Homo sapiens: one gene and its partners. The protein of the gene in region 3 purifies or fractionates together with the protein of the main gene of each other region. This does not show direct contact. Each region holds a gene or a part of one and is shown on either strand. Other genes may lie near its edges.

What was found.
Region 1: the proteins of BRMS1L (region 3) and SMARCA1 purify together in Homo sapiens (affinity purification with mass spectrometry, with the first as the bait; one large-scale study listed by BioGRID). This does not show direct contact.
Region 2: the proteins of BRMS1L (region 3) and HAT1 purify together in Homo sapiens (affinity purification with mass spectrometry, with the first as the bait; one large-scale study listed by BioGRID). This does not show direct contact.
Region 4: the proteins of BRMS1L (region 3) and CHD5 purify together in Homo sapiens (affinity purification with mass spectrometry, with the first as the bait; one large-scale study listed by BioGRID). This does not show direct contact.

What each region holds. Positions count from the first base shown.
Region 1 is NC_000023.11:129,464,491-129,467,990, reverse strand, and holds part of SMARCA1 (SWI/SNF-related matrix-associated actin-dependent regulator of chromatin subfamily A member 1), read left to right. Parts: intron 1-2,028; coding exon 2,029-2,147; intron 2,148-2,258; coding exon 2,259-2,471; intron 2,472-3,500.
Region 2 is NC_000002.12:171,928,961-171,932,460, reverse strand, and holds part of HAT1 (histone acetyltransferase type B catalytic subunit), read right to left. Parts: intron 1-3,500. UniProt on the Homo sapiens protein: Histone acetyltransferase that plays a role in different biological processes including cell cycle progression, glucose metabolism, histone production or DNA damage repair. Coordinates histone production and acetylation via H4 promoter binding.
Region 3 is NC_000014.9:35,864,338-35,867,837, reverse strand, and holds part of BRMS1L (breast cancer metastasis-suppressor 1-like protein), read right to left. Parts: intron 2,904-3,500; coding exon 2,839-2,903; intron 2,117-2,838; coding exon 2,077-2,116; intron 1-2,076. UniProt on the Homo sapiens protein: Involved in the histone deacetylase (HDAC1)-dependent transcriptional repression activity. When overexpressed in lung cancer cell line that lacks p53/TP53 expression, inhibits cell growth.
Region 4 is NC_000001.11:6,173,822-6,177,321, reverse strand, and holds part of CHD5 (chromodomain-helicase-DNA-binding protein 5), read left to right. Parts: intron 1-3,500. UniProt on the Homo sapiens protein: ATP-dependent chromatin-remodeling factor that binds DNA through histones and regulates gene transcription. May specifically recognize and bind trimethylated 'Lys-27' (H3K27me3) and non-methylated 'Lys-4' of histone H3.

The DNA.
Region 1 (3,500 bases), on a different chromosome or scaffold from region 3:
TATATGTAGTACATGGGACTTTTCTAACTTCCAAATAGGTTCAGCTCTTAAACTTATCATTTGAAACAAGATGTTTAGAATCTAGAGCATTTTTTGTCATTGAAACAATGGCAAAGTAGGTTTAAGTTTACAAAGTAGGTTTAAGTTTCTATGATAGCCCCTGCCCCAAATCTATTTAACCCTACCACTGAAATTCTGTTTTTGCAATAGTAGGAAAGAAACATTACAGTACCAATAAATATACTAAAGATTAATAATAGCTAGGAACAGCTTTTAATTTATCTAGCATGCTAGTGCTTGAAGAAATCCAGATTTAATTAGAGAGATTTTTTTTTCTTCTGGAAATCTAAAAGAGTCTTCTGGGGGACTTCAGAGGTCAGTTGTATTGAGTTTTTATTACATATAATATAACATTAAGTATATGAACTTCCTTTTCCTTCATACCAGCATGATATTACTATTACTCTGAACATTTAGCACATAAATTTAGGGCATTTGGAGGCTTAGGGGAAAAAATAGATTGAAGAGAGAAATTTTAGCATCAAGAGTTGAATGAAAAGAATGTAAAAGGGTATGTGCAGAGAGATTTTTAAGAAGAATTTTTTTCAGAAGATAGGCAGGGAGATAACATCGGTGTATGTGAAGTTGCAAGAAAAAAATGTGATTTAAAAAGATGATCCTGTCAGACTTTCTTTCAAATTTGACACCAAGCCAGGTGGCATGACTAGCTCAGGACTATTTAATTGCTGCCTGCCAGGTTGGGGGCCATGTCACAGGGTGAGGAGATTGCAATGAGTTTGTTGTAGTTGGTTACAGTAAGAGAAGAAATGTGTACAATTGACCACCCATGAATATACAGTATCCTGTACATAGCAAGTGTTTAAATATTTGTTGAATGAATATGTGAGTGAATGAGTAAATGAACACAGGTGCTTATAAAAATCAGAGTGCTCACATACCTTTCTTGATAGGCTCTAAAAATGAAAAGCTTGAGGATGTGGAGTATGTCATTAAAAGGCCTTTCATTGAAGTCATGTGACATATTAATACAGCCAGATTATTTGGCTCATCTATAAAATTTGGTTGAGTGACTTGGAATGTTTTTCAGTGTGTATGCAATTAAAATCCCAATGAGGTTTTTTTTTTTTTTTTTATGAGAAAAGGGTATTCCAAGTAAGTTTAAAAACACACTACTGGTCATTGGAAATACCGTAAGATGATTAGTGAGTGATTCCAAAAGCAAATGACAATTTCAAGAGAAATGGCTGCTCCATAGAAAAAAATTTGAACAACCTGTTCATAATAGCTTGGGTTTTTTGTTTATTTGTTTGTTTTTGAGATGGAGTCTCACTTAATCGCCCAGGCTGGAGTGCAGTGGCGCGATCTCGGCTCACTGCAACCTCCACTTTCCGGGTTCAAGCAATTCTCCCGCCTCAGCTTCCCGAGTAGCTGCGATTACAGGCACGCACCACCATGTGCAGCTAATTTTTGTATTTTTAGTAGAGATGAGGTTTCACCATGTTGGCCAGGCTGGTCTCAAACTCCCAACCTCAGGCAATCTGCCCACCTCAGCCTCCCAAAGTGCTGGGATTACAGTGTGAGCCACTGTGCCTGGCCCATAATTGTTTTCGCATGCTAGGAAGCTATATTCACTGTTTATATATTACTCTCTCCTGTGTCACTTTATGTGTTTGGTCCCTTTTCTATCATGTTTGAGTAAAAAGCCTAGCTTAAATCAGTATCTGCATCATCTTTTGAAATCCTAGTCATTTGGGATGGATCGTAAGACTCCGTACTATTTCATGAAGGAAAATTGCTAACCTAAAACCTTGTTTTGAGGTCTTATTTTTAAGTGAAAAGTTAGTAGTATTTAATAATTTAACATATTATATATATAAGATTAATCTGAATCTTAATTTTAAGAAGTACAAGCTCATTGTATTCTTTCCTATTAATTCCTTATTCTACAATTCCTTGGATTTATTTGCTTAAATGATAGGATTTTAAAGAAATAACTCTGTTTTTCAGCTGTATTTTGGGAACGTTGCAATGAATTACAGGACATTGAGAAAATTATGGCTCAAATTGAACGTGGAGAAGCAAGAATTCAACGAAGGATCAGTATCAAGAAAGCCCTGGATGCCAAAGTACTATGTTTTATGTCAAATTATTATTAGATCGTTTTAATTGAAATAGTGGTCAGCTTTGACTTCTTACTGCACATTCAATTAAAAGCACTATTTTGTTTAAATACACAGATTGCAAGATACAAGGCTCCATTTCATCAGTTGCGCATTCAGTATGGAACCAGCAAAGGAAAGAACTATACTGAGGAAGAAGATAGATTCTTGATTTGTATGTTACACAAAATGGGCTTTGATAGAGAAAATGTATATGAAGAATTAAGACAGTGTGTACGAAATGCTCCCCAGTTTAGATTTGACTGGTTTATCAAGTCTAGGACTGCCATGGTATGTATTCCTTTCTTACCGATTTCCTCCAACTTTTTATTTTGAAAAATTTCAGATGCCATATATCCTTCACCTAGATTCTCCAATTAACATTTTGACACATTGGCGCTCTCTCTTTCTCTCTCTCTGTGTGTATGTGTATACATACGTAGCACCTATATATACGTGCAGAATCTATATTTTGTATTAAAAAATACGGGGACATCTATATTCTATATTCTGAAATGCGTATCTATATTTTATAAGTATACTTAACTATATTTATGAACCATTTGAAAATTACAGACAATGTGAGTGTTCATCTCTAAATACTTAAGCATGTATCTCCTAAGAATAATGACATTTTCTTACATAACCACAATCCCACCTGAAAACATTGATTCAGTAATGTCATTTAGTATACAGTCTATGTATAAGCTTTTCCAGTTGCCCCCAAAATGCCCCCTTTATAGCTGTTTTTTTTAAAATTGATGATCCTGCAAGTTTCACACATTACATTTCGTTGTTGGGTCTCTTTAATCTCTTTTAATCCACAACCTTTTGGTTTTCGTGATCATGACTTTTTAAAGGTGTCCAGGCTAGTTGTCTTGTAGAATGTCCCACATTGTGGATTTACCTCATTACTCATTGTAAGATTCAGGTTCAACGTATTTGGCAAGAGTGCTGTGGAAGTGATGTTATGTATTTTTTATTGCATCCCATCAGAAGGCACATTATGTCATGTTGTCACACTGTTGGTGATGCTAAGTTTGGTCACTTGTTAATGTGATGATCTTCAGAGCTCTCCGCTTTAGAGTTATGTTTTCCCCTTTGTAATTAAGCAGGTTATGCTTGAGACTATGCGAATGACTTAAAGATGGACTTTTAATGAAAAGGAGTTGTTGCCTAAGTTGAGTTTTTTATTAGGAAACAGAATATTTAAGTTGAAGAGATATTTTATTTTAGCTTATGTGATTTCCTCCATTACTTTCTAATGTGAATTGTGTTCCTATTCTAGTCCTACTTAGCAGTGGTGTTCATGATGATTTT
Region 2 (3,500 bases), on a different chromosome or scaffold from region 3:
TCAGAACAGTATTAAATCTATTTATTAGATGTATAGTTAAAAACCTTCCAACAAAGAAAACTCAAGGCACATAAAACTTCACTGGTGAATGCTACTGAACATTTAAAGGAATAATGCAGTCTTATACAAATTCTTCCAGAAGATAGAGAAGAAACAGTTCCCAACTCATTTTATGAGGCCAGGAAACCTTGATACCAAAATCAAGCAAAGACGTATGAAAAAAGAAACCATTACCTGTCATGAACAAAGAGTCTTAACAAAACATTGCCAAGTCAAATCTAGCAAAGCAGAAAAAGGATAATATACTGGCATGCAAGGCTAATTTAACACTTAAAACCTCATCAATGTAATTCACCACATTATCAGAATTAAAGGAGAAAAATCTTATGATTATCTTGATAAAGAAAAAGCATTAGAAGGTAACACTTTCATAATAAAAACTCTCACCAAACTAGGAATAGAAGGAAACTTCCTCAACCTGATAAAGGGCACATATGAAAAACCTACAGCTAACATCATAGTGAATGGTGAAAGGCTCAAAATTTTCCTTCTTCAATTGGGAATAAGGCAAGGATGTCTACTCTATCACTTCCATTTGACATTGTAATAGAGGTTCTGGCCAGTGCAGTAAGGCAAGAAAATGAAACACAAGTGGCTCTCCACATATGCAGGTTCCACATCCACTGATTCAACCAATTACGGATCAACATGAGATTGGCTGAATCCTCAAACACAGAATCTGCAGATACAAAGAGCTGACTGTACTATATGGCTGTTTTTCCCCCCCGAGACACAGTCTTGCTTTGTCGCCCAGGCTGGAGTGCAGTGGCACAATCTCGGCTCACTGCAACCTCCACCTCCTGGGCTCAAGCAATTCTCCTGCCTCAGCCTCCCAAGTAGCTGGGATTACAGGTGTGTGCCATCACGCCCAGCTAATTTTTGTATTTTTAGTAGAGACGGAATTTCACCATGTTGACCAGGCTTGTCTTCTCGAACTCTTGCCTCAGCCTCCCAAAGTGCTGGTATTACAGGCGTGAGCCACCATGCCCGGCTATATGGCTATCTATCTATCAAGACAGGGTCTCACTCTGTCACTCACACTGGAGTGCAGTGGCACAATCACAGCTCACTGCAGCCTAGAACTCTTGGGCTCAGGCAGATCCTCCCACCTCAGCCTCCTGAGTAGCAACTACAGATGCACACCATCATGCCTGGCTAATTCTTGTATTTTTTGTAGAGATGGGGTTCTGCCATGTTGCTCAGGCTGGTCTCAAACTCCTGGGCTCAAGCAATCTGCCTGCCTCAACCTCCCAAAGTGCTAGATTACAGATGTGAGCCACCATGCCCAGCCACACTATGGCATTTTGTATAATGGACCGGATCATCGGCAGATTTTGGTATTCACGGGGGATCGTGGAACCAAATCCCTGAAGATACCAATGGACAACTGTATAAGGCAAAGAAAAACTGTGACTTTCTTCATTAACAGGTAATGTTTGTGTGCAGGAAATCTGAAATAATCTACATCTAAAAAAAAAAATCCTATAGCTGGGTGTGGTGGCTTATGTCTGCAACCCTAGCACTTTGGGAAGCTGAGGCAAGAGGATTGCTTGAGCCCAGGAGTTCAAGACCAGCATGGGCAATATAGTGAGGCCCTGTCCCTAGAAAAAAAAAAAAATTTTGCCAAGCATGGTGGCACGCACCTATAGTCCCAGCTATTCAGGAGGCTGAGGTGGGAGGTTCGCTTGAGCCTGGGAAGTCAAGGCTATAGTGAGCCACAATCACGCCACTCTACTCCAGCCTTGGCAATGGAGTGAGCCACTCTCTCAGAAAAAGCCCAGAATACAAAAAACTACAATAATAAGTGAATTTAGCAAGGTTGCAGAATACAAAACAATTACACAAACTGTGCCATTGTGTGTCCATGCATATGCACATGCACACACATAAAACAAGCAATTGGAAGAGAAAATGTTTAAAGTATATCATTTTTAGGTCAGGCACAGTGGCTCACATCTGTAATAGCACTTTGGGAGGCCTAGGTGGGCAGATCACTCGAACCCAGAAGTTCAAGACCAGTCTGGGTAACAAGGCGAAACCCTGTCTCTACAAAAAATACAAAAATTAGCCAGGCATGGTGGTGTATGCGGAGTCCCAGCTACTCGGGAAGCTGTGGTAAGAGGATCACTTGAGCTCGGAGGCAGAGGTTGCAGTGAGTGGAGATCACGCTACTGCACTCCATCCTCGGTGACAAAGTGAGAACATGTCACACATACAAAAATAAATAAATAAAAAAGTATACCATTTTTAAGAGCATCAAAAATCAAAAGATGTAGATTTACTCAGATAAATTTAACAAAATACATGCAAGACTGAAAACCTGAAACATTTCTAGAATACAGAAATACATCATGTTCATATACTGGAAGGCTCAATGTTATTAAGATAGCAATTCTCCCCACATTCAATTTTAGATTCAATGTAATCTTAAGATTAGTCAGAACTTTTTAAATAGAAATTAACCACCTGATTCCAAAATGTATACAGAAATAAGGTCAAGAATAATCGAAACAATCTTTAAAAAATAAAGATGTGGGACTCACACTACCAGGAATCAATAGAAAGTTACACTAATCCAGACAGTACGATATTGACAGAAAAACAGACAATGAATGAGAAAAGTCCAGATGTAGATCCACACGTGTAAGTTCAATATTTTTTTGTTAAAAACGCACCAAGGCATTCACACAAATTATACTGAAACAAGTGGATATCCACATGGAACAACAAACCTTAATCCCTTTCCTCATATTGGACATGAAAAATAACATGAGATGGATCATGGACATAATTTTAATAAGCTAAAACTAAAAACCTTCCAGAAGAAAACATTAGGAGAGCTTCATGATCTCCTTGGGGTAGACAAAGATATTAGGCATGAACCAGAAAACACTAATAGAAATTTTTAAAATTAATAAACTGGACATGATTAAAACTAAAAACTTCCAGTTATACAAAAAAAGTTGAGAATATGAACAGGCAAACCACAAACTGAGAGAAAAATGTGCACAAAACATGTAATCTGCATAAAGGACTCATCCAGAATATGTAGGTAAATAACACCTACAACTAATAACAAAAAGACAAATAACCTAATTTTAAAATGGGCAAAAGATGTGAATACATGAGTCCAAAAGGAGATAGTCGATAACCACATTAAAAAAACAATCCTTAATAGCATTAGTTATGAGGGAAAAGACAATTAAAACCTATTTAATCTTTACAACCACTATGAAGTACTATTAACAAAGAAATACTACTATAAACCCAGTAGAATGCCTAAAACTTTAAAAACTGACAACATAAAATGTTGGTGAGGATATGGAATAACGAAAATTCTAATACACTGTTGATGTGAGTATAAAAGTACTTTGGAAGTCAGTCTGGCCAAGTATCCCATAAAGTTAAACATACAAATACCCTATTGACCCAGCAAATCC
Region 3 (3,500 bases):
TAACAATTAACATCAATCCATGCATATGTAAAAAAGGCCTAAAAATATTTCTTAAATAACAAACCTAAAATGTAATAAAAAGATTTATTCCTTACATTCTTTTACATAATCACTAAGTTTTTAATATAACTACTAAACAAAGCTAAACAATGAACAATAAATCATCAATTGACTAATTAAGTACCAGAAGGGGAAGCAGGTATGTTATCAATTACTAGTGTGAATTTTAAGTAGTATTTAAAATATCAATTGCCATATTTCAATTGAAAATTATACTTTTTATTTTTTCCCCTGCGGGCATCTGATATACCGAAAGAAGCAGAGTTTAATACATGTTCCAAGCATTCCCCAGGCTTTTAATTCTAAAAAGGAAATGTCCTAAGTACAACTTCTATTTTTAAATTCCAGAAATCATCTGGCATTAGTCAGATAACTCATACAGGAAAAAAAAATCTTTTTTATGGAAACACAGTGTCAAAAGCATACCATGAAGTCATTCAAATGTCAGCTCCTGAGAGGTCTTCCCTAACTACTCTACCCACTCCTCAGCTAATTGTTATATCAACTGCACAGTTCTTTTAGAGTAATTATTATAATCTGTAACTATCTTCTTAACTGTTTATCTACATATATATGATTCCACCTCCCCTAAAGAGGCTCCAGGAGATCCATATTTCTTTTACCATTGTATTCTCAGGGCCTAAAATACCATCGGGTATATTCATTCATTCATTCATTCATTCATTCAACAAATGTTGTCTGAACACTTCCTATACACAAGGAAGTATGCTGGGGAAAAAACTGTGACCAAAAGAGATATGGTTCTAGCCTTTGTGGAGCTTACAATCCAGTCAGGAGATAGACAAAATTAAAAAGTACAAATTGAGTGAAGTGCTATGAGTAAAACTAATAGGATACAATGCTGAAGATAAGAGTGGGAGGGAGACACACTCAACTATGATAATGAGATTCTCAAAAGGAATCTATTACCCAAAAATGTTAAGAACCACTGCTCTACAGGTCTAGGCAGCTGCTCTGGCAGTTAATTCCCCAGGGCAAATACTGCTGCAATTTCCTCACAAAATAAAAAGTTTAAAGGAATCATGGGGTTAAAAATAAAATGCAATTTTTTTTTTCTTAGAGATGGAATCCTGCTCTGTTGCCCAGTGTAGTGGTGTGATCATGGCTCACTGGAGCCTCGACCTCCAGGGCTCAGGTGATCCTCCCACCTCAGCCTCCCAAGAGGCTGAGACTACAAGTACACACCGCCAAGCCTGGCTAATTTTTGTATTTTTTTGTAGAGATGGGGTCTTGCCATCTTGCCCAGGCAGATCTCAAACTCCTGGGCTCAAGTGATCCTCCTGCCTTAGCGTCCCAAATTGCTGGGATCATGCTAGGCATGAGCCACCATGCCCAGCCTAAACAGAAATTGGTCTCTTATCGATTACTTAAGCTGTTTAAATGTGACTAGAAATTCCTTTCCTAAGTATTTCAAATATGTTTTTCTTTTTAGTCTAGCTTCATTGTCCTTAGAAGGATTAGGAAATCTCACCTATAGTGAAAGAAGGCAGAAACAGAGAAACTTATCCTAAACACCATCACATTTTGGCAGTGATTTTAGACTTCCAAAAAAAAAATCAAGGAAGTGTAACTTGATATGAATTTTACTAAGGCATATCAGCATTCTGATCTCTCTCCTCAGAAAATGCACATGCAGAATTTTGCACATAATTTCAGAGGATTCACAGAATCTCTGAAGCCAATCCACAAATTCCAAATACCTCCCCTATAGAATGACAGAGCCCATAAAAAACACTGCATAAATACTTTTTTGAGTTACTGATCCATTATTAGCAATAAGAATGTAGCTGAACACTGAAATAATTATACCACATTCAGAAATTTTGAAACTTTTACGTGAAGCAATGACTCCAGAAGAATTCCTCATAATTTCAGGCACGGTGTTCACTGATGAAATAAAACCACTGATTCAAGAGTTCTTTAGTACGTAGATAACAACCCTGATTCAACAAGTCTCCAAAGAGAATATTTCCCAACTCAGACTAAATGACTTACGTTCCGTTTTCACTCTGTGTGGCCCCAATGTAGCCATTGCCTTAATTAAAAAAAAAAAAAAAGAGGAAGAAAGAAGTCTGAGTTCAGACTGAAAATATATTTTGGTATCTATTTAATATATACAATATTACCGATTAACTCCATAACAAAGACAGTAAAGTATAACCATTAGCTGCTCTAACAAATTTTTAATGTCTAAGACCATAAAGAATATGAGGGATAACAATTTCTCCTAGAGGTGTTTTCAATACCTGAAATAATCTCTAATTCTCAACTAAGAAATTTACAAAAATGAAAAAATGTAATATGGAAAACAAGCCTCCACTTTCAGGCAAGAAAAGAAAAGCCTATGATTCTTGAATGTTTAATGATAGGATGCAAGACACATAAGGGTTCAAATGTTCTTTTGTTCAACAAATATTTATCAAGTGTTTTCTATAAGCCAGGACCAGCCAAAGGACTAGGCACAGATGGTGATGTTATTATTTTTGGGCAGACTAAATAAATGTTTTTTGGACTTTTCCATAAATTATTAGTTACATTATTATAGAAAAAATACAATCAAACTGCTGACATGTCTCTAACTCTTAAAATATCCTTGTAGTTCACTGCTATCTGTAATAGTATTAAATTGCCTTAGAAAAATGTTGCAAAAGCAAAGCATATTTACAATAATATTTTGATGTACTAACAAAAAAAACATAGAATCTTAAAAAGTAGACTATAAAAACATACTTGTGTTCCACTGCTCATTAATCATACCTTCCTAATTGTTGTCCAGTCTTCAAGAATATCAAGATCTTGTAGCATATAAACTATATATGGACGTTGAATAGTCAAGGTCAATTTAGCTGTAAGAATATCACACTTTGAATTATATTTCCAAAGTACTACATTTCAGAAAATGGAACGATGATTTATGAGCATAATGCTTTGGCATCCTAAATTCTGACTTCAAATTATTCTTCAAACCACTTAGTACCAGCATAAATACAGTCTAGTACTTCTGATGTCATAACTACATGCCCTTAATTCCATGATATCATTGATTGTAATATACATCACTAACACAATCACTGGTTTTTAAGGTGGAGGGGAAAAGATGGGGGTAGAGGGATGGTACCATAGAGAATGCCGAAACTGAATATACGTATTAATTTACACTCCAATTTTGGAAACATTTAAAAATGTTTTTAAAAAGTATACGAGGCTAGGCACAGTGGCTCATGCCTGCAATCCTAGCACTTTGGGAGGCCAATGCAGGCTTAAGCCCAGGAGTTCAAGACCAGCCTGGGCAACACGGCAAAACCCCATCTCTACAAAAAATACAAAAATTAGCCAGGCGAGTGGCACGTGCCTGTAGTCCCAGCTACTTGGGAGGCTAAGGTGGGAGGATCACCTGAGCCCGAGAGGTTGAGGCTAAG
Region 4 (3,500 bases), on a different chromosome or scaffold from region 3:
CTGTCAAGTCGCACTGCTGGCCCCCCACTCACCCTGAGCTCTTCCTCATAGCCCCTATGCAGCCCTGAGTCCAAGCTCAGTGGCGGTGACCCCCAAAGACCAGAACCAGCTGGTTCCAAAAGATGGAAGTTTGTGGCTGGAGGAGCTAGTGTTTTGGAAGCTGTCATGATGATTTTTCAGTCTACGGCTATTAAACTCATGACTTGTCCGATCTTTTTTCTTTGACTCTGCTCATCTCCCACCTCCCCCTGGGAGTTGCTCACTCTCAGCAGTGAATTATTGTTTCCCGTGCAGTGATGGTGGGGAGGGGGAGGTTTGCCCTGGCCAGCTCTGGCATTGAGGCAGGTGTCTGAGCCAGCTTCTAGGAGGAAGGCAGGGCGGGTGCCTCTTCTGGTTGGGGGACCAGCAGTTGCCAGATTCTCCTGGGAGTTGGGGTGGCTGGTTGAAGCCAGGGGTCAAGAGCTGGTGGGATGAGGCCTTGGCTTCTAGCTCTGAGCATTAGCTGAGTGGTCTTGGACAAGCCAGGCAGCCCTCTCCTCGGTGTGCCCACTTGTAGTATGGGGACATAGCACTGGCTACCTCATAGAGGGTTATTATGAGGAACAGTGAGACAGTGCATGTGGAACATTAGGCCACAGTGCCCAGCACATGATAGGTGCTCAATAAACTGTGGCTGGTGTAGTTAGCACCAGCCAAGGAGGGCAGCTGTCCTGCCTTCTCCAAGGAAATGCTTCTGATACTTGCATCCTTAGCCAGTAAGCTCAGGGGAGTAGGAGCCTGGGTGGGAGGAGGGCTGTGAAGCCCAAGGTAGGGGTGGCAGGAAGCAGGAGAGGGCTTCAGAAAATGTGGCTCTCAGCCCTCTTAGGGCCACTGCTGGGCTGGCAAATTCCCTGCCTCATTGGCCCAGCTTTTCCTCAATCACAGACAAAGCTAGTGAGCCCAGAATGGGCAATGTCTGGACTAGGCACCGTTACCTCTCTGGCCCCAGTGACAATTGGCCCTAGATGTGTAAGTATCTTAGGCTTGCTTCCTCAGGTCCAGGGGCCAGGAGAGAGTGACAGTCATGATTCCCAAAAGGCCATGACATTTTAGCCTGCACCCCTACCCCTGTGGAAGCATGGTTTGGTAGGGGGGTCCCAGGGAGCCTGATTGTATTTAACATTCTTTTCTGGGAGGAGGGAGACAAAATGACCAGCACACTTTGCCCAGTGGCTTGGCCAGTGGGTTATTCATTGTCATTCCAAGTTGATCAGGTAATAGGATCCATCTATCATTTTATCAGTTCATTCAGTCGCTCACCCATCATCCATCCATCCATCTACCTACCCACCCACATCTACCCATCCACCTACAAAACCAACCAAGTAACCGTTCACCATCCGCCTATCAATCCATATCCATACCATATCCATCCATCCATCTGTTCTTCCTATCCACTATTCATCCATGCACTATTCGTCCATGCTTCCCACCATCCATCCATCCATCCATGCATCCATGTATCCATGTATCTACCTGCTCTCCCACATCTACCCGTCGACCCACAAAACCAACCAAGTAACCATTCACCATCCACCTATCTATCCATATGTATATCCATCCGTCCGTCCGTCCATCCATCCATCCATCCATCCATCCATTTGTTCTTGTTCTTCTTATCCACTATTCATCCATGCACTATCTGTCCATGCTTCCCACCATTCATTCATCCATCCTCCAATCCATCCATCCACCATTCATTCATCTGTCCATCCACCATCCACCCATCCACCATCCATCCATCTGCCCATCCACCATCCATCCATCTGCCCATCCACCATTCATGCTTCCATCCATTCATCCACCACCCACCATCCATCCATTCCTGTACCCACCATTCATCCATCTATCCACCCGTCATCCATCCATTCATCTATCCACCATCCATCCATGCATCCATCCACCATCCATCCATGCATCCATCCACCATCCACTCATCCATTCATCCACCATCCATTCATCCATCCACCATCCATTCATTCATCCATCCACCATCCATCCATGCATCCATCCATCCATCCACCCACCATCCATCCATCAATCCACAATCCAACCACGCATCCAACCACCATCCACTCATCCATTCATCCACCACTCATTCATCCACCCACCATCCGCCCACCATCCATCCATCTGCCATCCATCCATCCACCTATTGTCCATCTATTCATCAATCCACCATCCATCCATGCATCCATCCACCATCCACTCATCCATTCATCCACCATTCATCCACCCACCATCCATCCATCATCCATCCATTATCCATTCAGCCATCCATCTGCCATCCATCCATCCATCCATCCATCCTTCATCCACCATCCATCCATCCACCCACCCACCATCCATCCTTCATCCACCATCCATCCATCCACCCACCCACCATCTATCCATCCATCTATCCATTCATCTTTCATCCATCCATCCGTCATTCATCCATTCATCCATTTATCCATCCGTCCATCCTCCATCTTCCATCCACCATTCATCCATCCACCCACCATCTATCCATCAATTCATCATCCATCCATCAATTCACCATCTATCCACTTATTCACCATCCATCCACCATCCATTCATCCATCCACCCATCCACCATCCATCCTTCCACCCACCGTCTATCCATCAATTCATCATCCATCCATCTATTCACCATCTATCCACCATCCATTCGTCCATCCACCCATCCACCATCCATCCACTATCCACCCATCCACCATCCGTCCAGTGTCCATCCATCTGCCATCCATCCATCCATCCATCCATCCACCCACCATCCATCCATCTATCCATCCATCTACCCACCATCTATCCATCAATTCATCATCCATCAATCTATTCACCATCCATCCACCATGCATTCATCCATCCACCTATCCACCATCCATCCATTCACTATACAATTATCCGTCCACCCATCAGAGACTTCTGGAATATCTTCTCTGAGCTGGGTACTGAACACAATGTGTGTTGTCTAACTTTCTGGGCTTTTGCTTATCTCTGTGGCTCTGTCCTTATTTCACTCTCCTTCCCTGTCTCTCTCTCTCCCTCTGTCCCCATATCTGTCAGTTTTCGTCTCCCCTGAGGTCATGCCCCTGCCTCTCCCTTTCTGTCTGGCCGTTTTTCTCTCTTTTGTCCCTCCCTGTCCCCCCAGGTTGACTTCCCCTCTCACCATTCTGTCCTCCTCCTCCCCACCCATGCCCTGGGCCTCTCCCTGCTTTCCCTGCACCCCCAGGGTGACTCCCCCCAGGCCCCAGTCACTTGGGGTAAATGCCTCATCTATCCCCGTCTCTTCCCTCCACTCCCCACTCAGGACTGATGCTTTCTTTTGATGTGACACCAATGAGGTGATGTCTGGGTTTTGTTAAATGTCATAAATAAATTATGAATCCTCTCTTGGGCGGTGTACTGCCCCCCTTTGCCAGCATAAGCCCTGTCTCATGGGGGGAGGTTCGAGGACT